Linked DNA regions of Homo sapiens: region 2 is linked to region 1. The links come from fine-mapping of genetic effects on gene expression. Tissue or cell type: whole blood. Region 1 holds a variant in brackets; the other region holds the start of a gene. All regions are shown on one strand. Distances are between the middles of the regions.

Region 1 (8,260 bases):
TAGGTTTTTCTGTTTTTCTTTTTTGGGGTTTGTCTGAGACAGAGTCTTGCTCTGTCACTCAGGCTGGAGTGCAGTGTTTCATTCTCAGCTCACTGCAGCCTTTGCCTCCCAAGTTCAAGTGATACTCAGCCTCCTGAGTAGCTGGGATTGCAGGCGCCCACCACCACAGCCAGGTAATTTTTTGTATTTTTAGTAGAGACAGGGTTTCACTACATTGGCCAGGCTACTCTCGAGCTCCTGGCCTCAAGTGGCCCACCTGCCTCGGCCTCCCAAAGTGCCAGGCACAGGCATGAGCCACTGCACCCGGCCTGTTTGGGGTTTTTTTGAGACGGGGTCTAGCTCTGTTGCCCAGGCTGGAGTGCAGTGGCACAATCACGGCTCACTACAACCTTGACCTCCGCAGGCTCAGCTGATCCTCCCACCTCAGCCTCCTGAGTAGCTGGAACCACAGGTGTGCACCACCATGCCCAGCTTATTTTTCTATTTTTTGTAGAGACAGGAGTCTTGCTATGTTGCCCAGACTGGTCTCAAACGCCTGGGCTCAAGCAATCTGCCCACCTCAGCATCCCAAAGTGATAGGATTACAGGCCTGAGTCCAACCATAAGTAAGTTTTTGTTTTTTGTTTTTGAGTCAATCTCTCTGTCCCCCAGGCTGAAGAGCAGTGGTGCGATCATGGCTCACTGCAGCCTCACCTCCAGGCGGGAGCCACCATGCCGGTCAATTAACTTTTTTGTTTCAGTAATCACTTTAAATGTAAATAATCTGACCAATGGAAAGATCGGCAGAATGGATTTTTTTTAAATGATGTAATACACAATCCAAATATGCAACTTACAAAATACTCACTGTAGACCCAAGACACAAATTGTTTCAAAATGAAAAGACGGAAAGAGATAATCCATGCAAATAGTAACCAAAAGAGAGCTGGGGTGGCTATACTAATACCAGACAAAATAGATTTTAAGCCAAAAAATGTTACAGAAAGACATCGTATGTTGGTAAGAGAGTCAAATCACAAGAAGATGTAACAATTATAAATACGTATGAACTGAAAAAGAAAAAAAAAGGGCTCTAAAATGCACAGTCTAACAAAATTGAAGGAAGAAATAGTTTTACAATAACAGAGACTTCAACACAGGCTGGAGTGCAGTGACTCTATCACAGCTCACTGCGACCTCTGCCTCCCAGACTCAAGCGATTCTCCCACCTCAGCCTCCCCAGTAGCTGGAACTATAGGCACACGCCACCACACCCGGCCAATCTGTGTATTTTTTGTGGAGATGGGGTTTCATCATGTTGCCCAGGCTGGTCTCAAATGCCCAAGCTCAAGCAATTCGCCCACCTCAGCCTCCCAAAGTGCTGGGATTACAGGCCTGACCTACTGTGTCCAGTCAATACCCCACCTTCAATAGTAAATAGAACATCTAGACAAAATCAGTAAGGAACTAGAGGAATTGAACAACACACTAAACCAAATAGACCTAACAGACATATGGAAAGATATCCATCTAACAAGAGCAGAATATATATTCCTCTCAAGTGCACATGGAACATTCCCCATGATAAATCATATGTTAGGCCACAAAACAATTCTCAATAAATTTTAAAAGGTCAAAATTATACAAAGGGCCAGGTGTGGTGGCTCACAGCTGTAATCCCAGCACTTTGTGAGGCTGAGACAGGCGGATCACTTGAGCCCAGGAGTTCAAGACCAGCCTGGGCAACATGGTGAAACCCTGTCTCTACCAAAATAAAAAATAAAAAAATTAGCCGGCTGTAGTGGTGGTGAACGCCTGTAGCCCCAGCTACTCAGGAGGCTCAGGCAGGAGGATGGCTTGAGCCTGGAAGGCAGAGGCTGCAGTGACCTGAGATCATACCACTACACTCCAGCCTGCAGGACAGAGCGGGACTTGTCTTAAAAAAAAAAAAAAAAAAAAAAAACAGGCCAGGCTTGGTGGCTCATGCCTGTAATCCCAGCACTTTGGGAGGCCAAGGTGGGTGGATGACCTGTGGTCAGGGGTTCGAAACCAGCCTGGCCAGCATGGCAAAACCCCAACTCTAATAAAAAATACAAAAAATTAGCTGGGAGTGGAGGCAGGCACCTGTAATCCCAGCTACTTGGAAGGTTGAGCTAGGAGAATTGCTTGAATCTGGGAGGCAGAGGTTGCAATGAGCCGAGATCACACCACTGCACTCCACCTTGAGCAACAGACTGAGACTCTGTCTCAAAAAAAAAAAAATTATGCAAAGTGTCTTTTCCAACAAAAGTGTAATGAAGCTAGAAGTCAATAACAGGAAAACCTGGAGAATTTGCAAGTAAGTGAAAGTTAAACAACATTCTTAACCAGTGGCTCAAAGAAGAAATGACTAGAGAAATTGAAATACTTTCAGATGAATTAAAATAAAATGCAAGATACCAAAATTTATGAGATGGTGTGACAGGGGTACTCAGTGAAACTTATAGCTGGAAATACTTACATCAGACGGTCACGGTGGCTCATGCCTGTAATCCCAGCACTTTGGGAGGCCGAGGCGGGTGGATCGCGACCATCCTGGCTAGCACAGTGAAATCCCATCTCTACTAAAAATACAAAAAAAAAAAATTGGCCAGGTGCAGTGGCGGGCGCCTGTAGTCCCAGTTACTCCGGAGGCTGAGGCAGGAGAATGGCGTGAACCCAGGAGGCAGAGCTGGCAGTGAGCCGAGATCATGCCATTGCACTCCAGCCTGGGCGACAGAGCGAGACTCCATCTCAAAAAATAATAATAATAATAAATACTTTCATTAAAAAAGGACAATCTCATGCTTGCTTCATCAGCACATACACTAAAATTGGAACAATACAGAGATTAGCCTGGCCCCTGTGCAAGGATGACATGCAAATTCGTGAAGTGTTTCATATTTATTTTATTAAAAAAAAAAAAAAAGACCGGGCACGGTGGTTTACACCTATAATCCTGACACTTTGGGAGGCCGAGGTGGGTGGGTCATGAGTTCAGGAGATCGAGACCATCCTGGCCAATATGGTGAAACCCCGTCTCTACTAAAATACAAAAAATTAGCTGGGCATGGTGGTGCGCACCTGTATTCCCAGCTACTCAGGAGGCTGAGGCAAGGGAATCACTTGAACCCGGGGGACAGAGGTTGCAGTGAGCCAAGATCGCACACTGTACTCAAACCTAGTGACAGAGCAAGACTCCATCTCAAAAAAAAAAAAAAAAAGAAAAGATAAAAGGAACGATTTCAAATTAACAACCTAACTTTACACCTAAGGGGTATTTAACCTTTTGGTTTCCCTGGCCACATTGGAAGAATAATTGTCTTGGGCTAAGGGAGGAGACCACCCCTCATATTGTCTTATGCCCAGTTTCTGCCTCCAAAGAAAGAAAGAGAAAAAACTAAAAGGCAGAAATGAAATCCACAAGCAGACAGCCCAGCGCCACACCCTGGGCCTGGTAGTTAAAGATCGACCCCTGACCTAATCGGTTATGTTATCTATAGATTACAGACATTGTATAGAAAAGCACTGTGAAAATCCCTGTCCTGTTTTGTTCTTAATTGCCAGGGCATGCAGCCCCCAGTCACACACCTGCTTCTTGCTCAATCGATCACGACCCTCTCATGCGCACCCCCTTAGAGATGTGAGCCCTTAAAAGGGACAGGAATTGCTCACTTAAGGAGCTTCGCTCTTGAGACAGGAGTCTTGCTGATGCCCCCAGCCGAATAAACCCCTTCCTTCTTTAACTCAGTGTCTGAGTAGTTTTGTCTGCAGCTCGTCCTGCTACGGGGCCACACATAAAATGCACTAACCCTAACAATAGGTGATGAACTAAAAAAAAAAAAAAAAAAAAACCTCAAGAAAATCTCATACTGTTTTCTGTTATTTGTAAAGTTTATGAATTTGTGTTGGGCTGCATTCAAAGTTATCCTGGGCTGCATGTTGGACAAGCTTGACCTAAGGTGTAAAAGAAGAGCTAACTAAACCTACAGCCAGCTGAAGGAAGGAAATACTAGAGATTAAAGCAGAATGAAATAGAGAATAGAGGAAAAATAATTGTCAAAACAAAAAGTTGGTTCATGGGAAAAAAAAACAAATTTGATGAACCTTTAGTTAGACTGACTCAGAAAAAAAAAGAGAATAGTAAATAACTAAAATCAGAAAGAAAATGGTGACATTATTACTGATCTTACAGAAATTTTAAAGATTTTTAAGACAATACTATGAAAAATTATATTCCAAAAATTAGACATCTAGATAAAATGTAGATTCCTAGAAACACACAAATTACCAAATATGACTTAAGAAGAAATAGAAAATCTCAATAGACCTATAACAAGAAAAGAGAATACATACACACACATATACCCATACATAAACCTACTGGCCAGGCATGGTGGCTCACACCTGTAATCCCAACACTTTGGGATGTTAATGCAGGCAGGTTGCTTGAGCCCAAGAGTTCAAGACCAGCCTGGGCAACATGGCAAAACCCCATCTCTACAAAAAGTACAAAAACTAGCAAGGTGTGGTGGCTCACACCTGTAGTCCCAGCTACTCAGAAGGCTGAGGTGGGAAGATCACTTAAGCCAGGAGGTGGAGGTTATAGTGAGCCAAAGATTGCACCACTGTACTCCAGCCTGGGTGACAGAGCCAAAAAGCAAACAAACAAATAAACCTACTAGAGCTAATTTTAATTCAGCAAAATTGCAGGGTACAAAATCAACACACAAAAATTAGTTATGGAAATATACATGTTAAGATGGCCAACTAGATGCAGCCAGGTGCAACAGCTGCCACCGAGGGACTGATTTGACTGGTGCACTACTAATGGATCTTCAGAGGGAAGGCACTGAGAGTAGATGGAGGGAAGACACAGAAGCTAGGCTAAAGGGGTAGTAAGCTGGGAGGCCTGCATGGGGCTACTGCACCCTGGAACTCATTCCTGGCCCCCAATGACTGGGGGAAAGGGTGAGTTGAACTTGCAAGAAGCAATGCTTCTTATGTCCAGCCTCTGGAATCCTGGCAGGAGATC[C/G]TTTGAGCATCATGGACAGTAGAGTTGCAAGGGAGAGAAGCTTGGAGAAGCAGCCAGGGCAGCAGCCAGCTGATGAACCCAGAGGGTTTGGTGTGAGAGCAGCTGTAGTGGAGCACAGCCAAGGACAGCCACACCCCTAGACTCAACTTGCTCCCATAGGAGACTTTCACCCTAAGGGAACCACTGGGCCTGAACTTCGCAATGCAGTCTTACTCATCAGGCAGGGCTGGTCCTACCTGAGCACTCCTTGGTTCGCTGGCCTCTCTGAGGGTCCAGCCTGGCCATGCCTGATTGCAGGGAAGCCTTGAGCACCCTAGGGGCCCACATCATAGCTCCAGTGCTGGTGGACCATGCCTGAAATGCGAAGAGCTCCCCCGGGGCAGCTCCCAGGGCCACACACCAGTGCACACACTCCTTCTACACTGCATCTTCCCCAAGGCCCACGGTAACACCGCACATGGCTTTGCCAACATGTGTGTGCATGGGCAGCTTCTGCTTATCTTGTCCTGCCAGCCTGCATGTATGTGTACACCCTGCCCTGCAAGTACTGCAGCAGGAGTGCAGTCTGCTCCACTCTCCCTTCTGACCACCACTGTAGTCAGAGCCTTGGTGGGCACAGAGCCAGCCAGCCCCAACCCCTCCCCTGCCAGTGCCCCACCCATTTGCCAGCACTGCTCCAAGTGAAACTAGGCACAGAGAACAGCAGACTCTTCCCTACCCTGAGCGCTCTCCAGCACCCTGCTGCCATGTCAACACCACTACTGGTGCAACCACATGCACAGACACCAGAAGGGGCCCCCACCCTGCCAGCTGTGTTCCCTTTGCTGCTGTGGTAAATGCTGCCACAGAGGCAGGCATGCCAGCACCCACTAGCACCCTACTGCAGCCATGCTGCTGCTGCCACTGCCGCTGGCACATGCAAATGGGGATGGATTCCACTGTCTCTGCACTACTAAAAGCTTTGGCTGACATCACCCGTTAGAGTGTAGTGACCAGCAGTCTGAGAGCATCTTGGCTCACCCAGTGCAGTGGATTCTTATCCTTGAGGAGACAGAACAAAGTTGGGGCTCGATACAAGTCCTCCAGGGTTACAGCACACAGTCCAGGAGTTGGGAGCTCAGTGTTGGTCCTCTAAACTCTTCCAGAAATGAAGCCAGTTGACTGAATCCACCTTATACCACAGTGAAACCCTCAAGGTCGTCAAATAGGATAAAAGGAAAAAAACCCATCCAAAGGTCAGCAGCTTCAAAGATTGAAGGAAAATAACCCTGCAAAGATAAAAAAGAACCAGTGCAAGAACTCTCACAACTCAAAAAACCAGAGTGCCTTCTTTCCTCCAAACGGCTGCACCACCTCTCCAGCAAGGGGTTTGAACCAGGCTGAGATGGCTGAAATGACAGAAATAGAATTCAGAATATGGATTGGGATGAAGATCTTCGATATGCAGGAGTATGTTGAAAGCCAATCTAAGGAAGCTAAGAATCAGGATAAAACAATGCAAGAGCCAACAGAAAAAATAGCCAGTACAAAAAAGGATGTAGCCAACTTGATAGAGCTAAAAAACACACTACAAGAATTACATTAATAGCAGAATAGACCAAGTGGAAGAAAGTATCTCAGGGGCTGAAGACTGGCTTTCTGAAAGAAGACACGCAGACAAGAATGAAGAAAAAAAAATTAAAAGGAAGAAACAAAACCTCTGAGAAATGTGGGATTATGTAAAGAGACCAGATCTACGACTCACTGGTGTCCCTGAAAGAGATAGAGAGAGTATAAGCAACTTGGGAAGTGTATTCCAGGATATCATTTATGAGAACTTCCCCGACCTAGCTAGAGAGACCGACATTCAAATTCAGGAAATGCAGAGAACCCTAGTAAGAAACTTCACAAGAAGATCATCCCCAAGACACATACTCATTAGATTCTCTGAGGTCAAAATGAAAAAAAAAAGTTAAAGGCAGCTAGAGAGAAAGGTCAGGTCACCTACAAAAGGACCCCATCAGGCTAACAGTGGACCTCTCAGTAGAACCCCAACAAGCCAGGAGAGATAGGCAGCCTATCTTCAACATTCTTAATAAAAAGAAATTCCAACTGAGAATTTCATATCCAGCCAAATTAAGCTCCATAAGTGAAGGAGGAATAAGATCCTTTTCAGACAAGCAAATGCTGAGAGAATTTGTTATGACAAGATCTGCCCAAAAGCTCCTGAAGGAAGCACTAAATGTGAAAGGGAAAGACCATACCAGCCACTACAAAAACATCCTGAAGTATGCAGAGCAGTGACAGCATAAAGCAACCACACAAACAAGACTGCGTAATAACCAGCTAACATCAGGATGACAAGATCAAATCCACACATATCAATACTAACCTTGAATGTAAATGGGCTAAATGCCCCAATTAAAAGGCACACCATGGCAATCTGGATAAAGAATTAAGACTCATTGGTATGCCATCTTCAAGAGACTCATCTCACATGCTATGACACCCACTGGATCAAAATAAAGGGATGGAGAAAAATCTACCAAGCAAATGGAAAACAGAAAAAAATCAGGGGCTGCAATCCTAATTTCAGACAAAACAAACTTTACAAACCAACAAAGACCAAAAAACACAAAGAAGGGCATTACATAATGGTAAAGTGTTCAATTGAACAAGAAAACTTAACTATTCTAAGTATTAGTATTTATGCATCCAAAACAGGAGCACCCAGATTCATAAAGCAAGTTCTTAGAGACCTTCAAAGAGACTTAGACTCCCACACAATAGTAGTGGGAGATTTTAACATCTCACTGACAGTAATAGATACATCACTGGGGCAGAAAATTAACAATGATATTCGGGACTTGAACTCAGCACTGGATCAAATGGACTTGATAGACATCTACAGAACTCTCCTCACAAAAATAACAGAATATACATTCTCATCACCACATGACACATACTCCAAAATCAGTCACAGAATCATACACAAAATACTCCTCAGCAAATGCAGAAGAACTCAAATCATAACAACCAACCTCTCAGCCCATAGTGAAATCAAATTAGAAATCAAGACTAAGAAATTCACTCAAAATCATACAATTACATGGAAACTGAATAACCTGCTCCTAAATGACTTCTGGGTAAATAATTAACTTAAGGCCAAAATTAAGAAGTTCTTTGAAATGAATGAGAAAAAAAGATACAACATACCAGAATCTCTGGGACACAACCAAAGCAGTTTTA
Region 2 (8,000 bases), 460 kb before region 1:
GTACTGTTTCTGTCAGGCACGGAAAACTTTAGAAAGCAAACTAAAAATCAGCAAAGTTTCTACTTACAAGGTGAGAGAGAATTCAACATATGGAATCTATTTTTTCACTCTAAGCCAAAGTCTAAACAGAGTATTTTATTTTCTCAATTAACCTTCCCAACTCTGTATTACTTTACAAAGATTCTGCTTTGGACAAAAACTACTGACAGCAGCACAAAACGCACTGATGTTTTGGGTCTCCTGTGCTTCACTGTGCTGGGCCTGTGAATTGGTTTATCTTTTAACTGAAGCCCCAGATAACTTTCTATATAAAATTTAATAAATTACATTATGCCCCCAATTGGGCAACAAATATGTATTGGAGAAGCATTCATAATCATGCTTCAACTACTGGTGTGCCCTTTACGTTTTTTTCAGTCATATTCAAAACACACATTTTTCAATCATTTCTCCAACAATTTACCACGAAAAGAACACCAAGTATATCATTTTTGTACATAAAATATGAGAAAATTGAATATAGTTTTATCTGGGCTTTGGATGTGTATGCAAAAAAAATCAGTATGTATGTTTGTTTCTCTTGAAATGGATAATTCTGCCCACTTTGTCAACTGGATTGCAATTCTTAAGAAAATATCTTGACTAGGAAAATAAGCGAACTTTGTCACCTTTTTTCTGTGTACACTAAAATATAATTTCCCAAGTGCATCTGGGTATTTTATCCTTGTTACTATCTAATTATTGCTAGTCTTTAAACAAAAACAAAGGCATTGTTCTGTTTCTACAAAACTACAAATCTAATTCAGCAGACTCCCTCAAAAGACCAGATGTACATAATAGGCAAAACTATTGTCTATAGAGAATAATAAAGTGGCTAGGCAAAGGGTTTGCTATCTGACACTGAAAACGGTCAGGAGTGGGCTTATTCTGAACTGTAGTATTTTCATCCCTGGCTCTGTACTGAGAGTCAAATGCCAGTCTTCGCAATGCCATCTGAGAACAAAAATTCACTTGTTCCAGGAAGTCGCTATAGATATTGTGTTATATTAAAATATGTTCTGCTTTCACCATTCTGTTAATTTAACAGATTTATGAGGAATTTTCACTCATGCTAATGGAAAAAGTATATATTTAAAAAAAAACACAGTTCAACAAGTAATTAGACACAAGTCAGCTAACTGAATTACCCACAATAACATGACACAGAATCAGTGGAGAAATCCCTTACAGATGGTTTCACTGTTCAACAGCTACAGAAGAAATTACAAACCAGCCTACTTCTAATTTTTCACTTGGGCTTTGAAGCTAAACAATAATCCTCACTTCAATTCTGGCCTTAAAAGTGATCAAGAAACTATTAATGCTTGCTCATCTCTGTGGTACAAAAATGTTACATGTTTTTATTCTTATTAGGTATGTTATTGGACAAATGGAGGCAGTATAGCATAATGGCTAAGAAAGCAAGCTCTGAATCAGATTTCCTGGGTCCACAGCTAGCTGTATGAAAATGGGCAAATTATTTAATGTGTTCGTGTATCAATTTCCTCATCTTTGAGATAAGGGGAAAATACTATCAACTCCAGATTGTGGTTGTAAGGATTTTGTAAAATAAATGTGAGGCATACCTGGCATACAATAGGCATGAGGTGTATGCTATCATTATTATTTGTAACTATTACAACATTTTCTAAGAGAAAAAGAACCATTCTAGGAAAACAGAAGACTTGGATACTAGACCTTAGAGAAAGACAATTAAGAAGGCATACTCTTGGGCTCGGGTTCTTCACCTGTGAAATAACGGGGCCTTACTAGATGATTTCTCAAATTTCGAAAAAGTGTAATTAATGGAATAAATGAGTTGTTACTGCTTGTGACCACGGACCACAGCTACAACGATGGGAACGCTACAGTAAAAACATGAACAAAACAGAAGAAAAAAGGAGGACACAAAGGCTTGAGATCAGGTTCCTAAAACAGGGTGTAGGTCTAAAACTGTCATCTGAAAAAGATGATGAGTTTAAAAAAAAAAAAAAAGAAAGAAGGAAAAACTAGTATCGGAAGCAAAGCCCGAGGAAGAAAATTCTAGATTCTGTTTTTTAAAACGTGCGCCCAATTGTGAAACTAGACGCCAGGGAAGGGGGAAGGGATGGGTTGGCGCTCGAAGGGGCAATTCAGTTTGGGAACGGGAGCGCAAAAATTGCGGGAGACCTCGTCTGTCCCCTTTCCTGTTGGATCCCCAACTCTACTAAAGCAGGCAGCGAGTACAAGGTGCTGAATTTACACCTGATGAATTAATAAATGAACATACGTGTAAGGGGAAAAAGAGATAGCCAAGTCTGTAATATCCCTCGACAGGGAGGACGTAGCCCGAGGGATGATGGCTTGGGAAAAGAGGAAAGAGAACTGGGGGGCATCGGAAAAGCCCAGGGTCTGGGGGAGGCGGGAGAGCATCCAGGGCGGGTGGGAGGACCGGGACAGCACACGGGCCGCCCGGGGGGTCACCTGCGACGTCCGGCGGCGGCAAGCCAGGGTGGTAGTGCTGCCACAGCCCCTGCAGGAAGGCGGCGCTGCTATCCATGCAGCGGTGCTTGGAACTGGTGATGAGCCGCAGGCGGCCGTAGTTCTCACGGCTGAAAAGGGCCGGGAAGAGCGAGGCCAGACGCAGCGCCAGCTGTCGCATATCCTGCCGTCCCTTCTCTACTAGCTGCCCGTCCATCCAGTCCGCGTACCACAAAGGCCAGTCGGCCAGCGCTGCACCCAGGTCGCGGCTGCCGGTACTACTAGCCCCGCCATCCCTGGACCCGCGGGCCTGCAGCAACCCGTGCAGCTGCCTCAGCTTGCGGATCTGTTTGACCGTGGGGTAGCGGGTGCCGTGGCGAATGAGGGCGACCAGCTGCACCGGGGTGCAGGTCCCCTCCAGCAGCTCAGGGTCCCGCCACGGAGCCTCGGGGCCCGACAATAGCACGGGGTTGACATCCTCGTAGCGAGTCTTGGTGCCGAAATAGGGGCTGAGCGACGAGGCCACCGGGTCCCTCGGCTCTAGAAGAGAGCAGCGCGCAAGCGACGAGAGCAGCGCCGCAGCCAGGGCCGCGGCAGGCGCTACGGAGGTCCGGAGGAGGCAGCCGGGCGCGCGTAGCATCGTCGGGACGGTCAGTGGAGTGCGCCGAGCCAGCTGCAGATGCCCAGCTTCCGGCTCCGGAGGGCAGGGGGCGGGTCTGGAGGGCGCTTCCGGCCGGCGGCCCTCGGGATGCGCTTCGCTGTTCTCTAGGAGGTACCAACCTCTGGCGGTGGGTCTTGCGTCCCGGCGGAAAGCTCCGAGGAGTCCTGTAGACTTGTGGCTCGGGTGGAGCCGGCGGAAAACCCCGAGAAGCTTGAGACAGCCGTGGCTGAGGTGGAGCCGGCGTCGCTGCCCTGGAGCGTGGGCGAGTTTCCTCTTAGCCGGAGCTTCAGGGATTGACTCAAAGACTCCTCCGCTTTTTTAGTTGTTTTGGGTGTGAATACAGCCCGGACTAAACCTTAGTCGCCTAGACTAAACCTTAGCCTCCCAGGCTGCCAAAACAGCACAGCTTTTACAGATGACTCTTACATCACCATCCCTACTCTGTGATACTGTGTTTTTCAAAGTTTAGTGCCTGAACCATCAGCATGAAATCTGCCTGAGACGGTTGTTGAAAATTCACATCGCTGGGCCTTGCGGCAGGATGCCTCTTGAAGCCCAAGGTTTTTGTTTCGTTTTTTTCCATTTGAGTTTGAAAATAAACAGGATACAGTAAAGCAGAGAACTTGGAAAGGGGCTTACATTCTGCAGGAATTTAAGTCCTGAATCTTTGGTATAATCTTGACCTGGACTACCAGAGCTAACGCCGACATCAGTGAGACAGCACCCTAAAAGTTCTGTGCTTGTTGTTCCCGAAGGCTTAGCGAGTAGAGACATAGCAATCTAGAGAATTTGGGTGCATTGAGTCATGGCCCAACAGATTTACTCTATTATTAAGTATGAGCTAATCTGCTTTGCGAAGCAAACATGCTCTGTATTTACCACCACTCCAGATCCATACGTTCCTCCCATGTACTTACTTACATACTCAAATCAAAAGCTGGGTTTTTTAATAGGTTATTGCTCAGAATCTTTGACCCCAAAAATCATAAGTCTGAACAATACCTTGTTTTTTCCCACTTGAACTCCAGTTTATTTGCCAGCTGGGGAAATAATAAGTATTACAGAAGTCGTACGGTGATCCAGATTTAAGGAAATTGGGACCACGTTTTCATTAAGTTAGCTTTTGCTTCAAAGACACTATTACATTGCTCTTTATAAGCCCATCACCATCTTTACTCCTTTTCTCTTTAAGTGTCTCCTTGGTTTAGAGAGGTGTTCCTCTAAGTTTAGGCGTGCCTCTAAATGTTAACCAAGAAGAAACGGGGCCAGCCTATGAATGCTGAAAATTTGGAGACGTTCTGTGCAGGAAACCATCTTTAGGGCAACAGATGTTCTTTTCGATATGCTATTTTGTAGCATGTCAATGCCTGAATATTCATGGTCAGTGATATTTTTGTAGAACTTTGCTCAAATTAGCATTTAGTAAATATCCGCTCCTTCTTAAAATAGACATTCTAACCCGTATGCTCTATAGGCTGAGTCGCCTGATAATATTTCTAAGTGCATTCAGCGAGCATTTGTTCCAGGTTCATCTCACTGTATTTTGCCTAATACATATGCTTACTAATAACTTCTCACACCCAATCTTTTGAGTCCTAGGGGTTACCAAGTGTTCCCAAAGTCATTATTCACTTCTTCCTTATGAAGCAATCTTTAGAGACTCCACTTACAAAATGTATGGCACAGTACACATTTTTATACATGAAATTTGCCCCTAGTTTGATTTTATTTTCCTTATCTAATTCCTCATCAATTAATTTTATCCTGTTTTATACACTTAGGTATATCAGCTCCTAATTATTTTGATGTTATGCCAAGATAACAATGATAAAGTAAAAGTAAGCAATGCCTCCATGTTTTTGGCTAGGAAAAAGCCAAATATAAAGAAGACGAAGAGTGCTTAAGCTTTGGACCCAGACTCTAATTAGCTCTGCTGCTTATTAATTGAGTGACCCAAGTTCTCTGGGCCTTAGTTTTTTTTTTTTATCTGAAAATTGGTAATATTAGAACCTATATCATGGGATTATCATGACAGAGATGATGTATTTAAAATCCATATGATAGGCCGCTATAAATGATATTTTTATCATTACTAATGTTCAGTGTGATTATTCCTGTGCTAAGATGCCTAGCTTTCTAGCAATTACATGGATTACACTTACTCCCACTGAACATTAAAGTGAATGACTTTCACAGGCAACACATGCATCAAAGATCATTTCATAACTTTTCTAATAATAAAAATCCACTCATTTCACTTAAAATGGATATCTTGTTCTTAGAGCACTAAGCAGCCTTTGAAAAAATTTAAAAAGGTCACAGGCCGTGCTCCTCATTTCATGCCAGACCATGTCTGAATTATCTGGGCACTCTGTAAATTGGATGCCCTTTGACATAGGTGCCCACTTGGTCCAATCATGTAGTACAGAGAAGTTTGCATAGTGCGAAACATGGCTATTCCTTTGCAGAGATCATGGGAACATCACCTCCCCTCATAAGAAATTGTGGGTATGGGAGCAATATATTTGGCAAATCTAACACAATACAAGAGGCAGAAAGGAAAATTAATGGTTCAAGGTCCTTGCAGAGATGGGAGAGGACAGAACCAAAAACACAGGTAGAGAATTTGATTTGGGCCAGAAGGAGATGAGACCTTATCTTCTAAGAGAATGTTAGAAGGATGGGTGAACATGGGGATAAATTTGTAGATCTGGCAGGAGAGAGTTCATAGAATTCAAGTCTGATGGCCTCAGTTTCCACAGTAACATAGGAGACAAGTTTGAAAGATGGGGGAATAGGAATTAAGTCTTGAAATGTGAAAATGGTTTGGATTTGCAACTGAGAGAAATGGGAAAGTAATGGGAAAGGATTGACAACTAAGAGGAATGGGAGAAACAAGTAGAAGTTTGTATGGTCAGCTCTGGAGATCCAACTGAGAATGAATTGCTAGTGGTTCTGCAATTTTATTTAGAAGCAAACATTATCTGTTGTATTTTTTCAGAGTGGAAAAGAAAAAAAGTTTAACTTGATGGTCCTACATTAATGGGTCTTGAGTAGAACTTCATTTCTAATCAATCCACTATACGAAAGGATAAGCTCAATTATTTTTGCCAGATTATCCATAGGATTTCAAAAATAGTCATTCAGCTTTTAAGATTGCATGGTGTCAGCCAGGCACAGTGGCTCATGCCTGTAATCTCAGCACTTCGGGAAGCTGAGGTGCGTGGATCACCTGAGGTCAGGAGTTCGAGACCAGCCTGGCCAACATGTTGAAACCCCATCTCTACTAAAAGTACAAAAAAATTAGCTGGGTGTGGTGGTGGACGCCTGTAATACCAGCTACTTGGGAGGCTGAGGCAGGAGAATTGCTTGAACTTGGGAGGTGGAGGTTGCAGTAAGCTGAGATCACGCCATTGCACTCCAGCCTGGGCAACAAGAGTAAAACTCCATCTCAAAAAGAAAAAAAAAGATTACATGGTGTCATATATAGTATTTTAAGTTAACAGCCATCTACTTTACTTTTAAAGAGGTTACTAAGATAGTTTTCTGGGGATGAAACAATAAAGGAAAGGAAACAGCTAAATTCTGTAGGGAAACAGCAAGGCTCTCTATGTAAGCATATACAATACTAAGAACATGGTCTCAGAAGTTAGACTTTCTGGTTTTCAGATTCCAGCTTCATCTCTTATTACCTGTGAAATATTTAAAAAATTAAATTATTTTGCCACCATTCTTTTTCATTGTAAAGTGGGGATAATAATACCTAGCCATGAGACTGTTGAGAGGATTAAACGAAACAGCTTATATAAAGACTTTATATAGTTTCTGCCCCCAAATAAATATCAGTTGCTTTTATTAAGCAGAATTAAAGGGTTTCTTATTATCACGTCTCTCTTAAATAAACTGACAAATAGTTTTTCATAGATATTTATTATCTCATAACTACATTAAGCAACGAACTTTGTGCCTATGCCAGGAAAGTTTGAGCTTTCTTATCTTTCTGCCCTGCTGTTGCATCATTCCTCTTTTAACAGTTGCCAGATGTTGATTTAGTGTTTATTGGCTTTTTGTTGCAGTGGAAGCCAACAGAAGAGGGGTCCATGTGTACAGATAGGCCTGGAGTGATCCATGTTCCAACAGCAGTCCCTTTAACCTCACTTGAATGTGGAGGCTGCACAGGTCACAAGTCTGAAGACTACAAGCTACCTTTGCTTAAAAGGAACCACACCACCGCTGATAGCTAACTGCTAGATTGTTCTCCAGCATATCAGAGCTACATTGAATTGCTTGAGTTGTGCTTCAATTAATGTAGAGATCTTCACTGAATCGCACATAACCATTGAAGTAACCTGCTGTTTACAGTCTCTATCATGCTCTGCCAAGAGAGTTATTTTACAGTGACAAAACTTCTCTTCTGGTGCCCTGACACATCCTAGGACTTTGATGTTGGTAATTCTTTCCCCTCAGCAAATGTTGGTTCTAAATCCACAGAACTACTTGAGAAACTAGATGCAAAATTGTAGTAGGTTTAAACTATCAATACTCTTTTTTTTTTTTTTTTTTTTTTTTGAGACAGAGTCTCTCGCTCTGTCACCCAGGCTGGAGTGCAGTGGCGCGATCTCGGCTCACTGCAAGCTCCGCCTCCCGGATTCACACCATTTGCCTGCCTCAGCCTCCCGAGTAGCTGGGACTACAGGCGCCCACCACCACGCCTGGGTAATTTTTTGTATTTTTTAGTAGAGACGGGGTTTCACCGTGTTAGCCATGATGGTCTCGATCTCCTGACCTCTTGATCTGCCCGCCTCGGCCTCCCAAAGTGCTGGGATTACAGGCGTGAGCC

Evidence for each region. PIP is the estimated chance that this variant, and not a neighbour inherited with it, causes the effect.
Region 2: MINPP1 starts here. The variant in region 1 is fine-mapped to the expression of MINPP1 in whole blood (TOPMed, PIP 0.93).

The regions. Positions count from the first base shown.
Region 1 is chr10:87,035,883-87,044,142 of GRCh38, reverse strand. It overlaps the pseudogene RNU6-529P. Among named protein-coding and RNA genes, the nearest start is that of FAM25A, 20 kb to the right of the region's middle. The variant C/G (reference allele first, on the strand shown) is at 5,033.
Region 2 is chr10:87,500,055-87,508,054 of GRCh38, reverse strand. MINPP1 (multiple inositol-polyphosphate phosphatase 1) reads right to left here and starts at 3,162. Exons shown (of 5, transcript NM_004897.5): 1 at 2,503-3,162. The coding sequence starts at 3,139. It overlaps MIR4678 (microRNA 4678), which reads right to left and starts at 4,174; the gene lies at 4,101-4,174. LOC112268064 (a long non-coding RNA gene) reads left to right here and starts at 3,221. Exons shown (of 2, transcript XR_002957094.2): 1 at 3,221-3,720; 2 at 7,237-8,000. RefSeq lists enhancers at 2,883-2,942, 3,103-3,192 and a cis regulatory region at 7,053-7,437.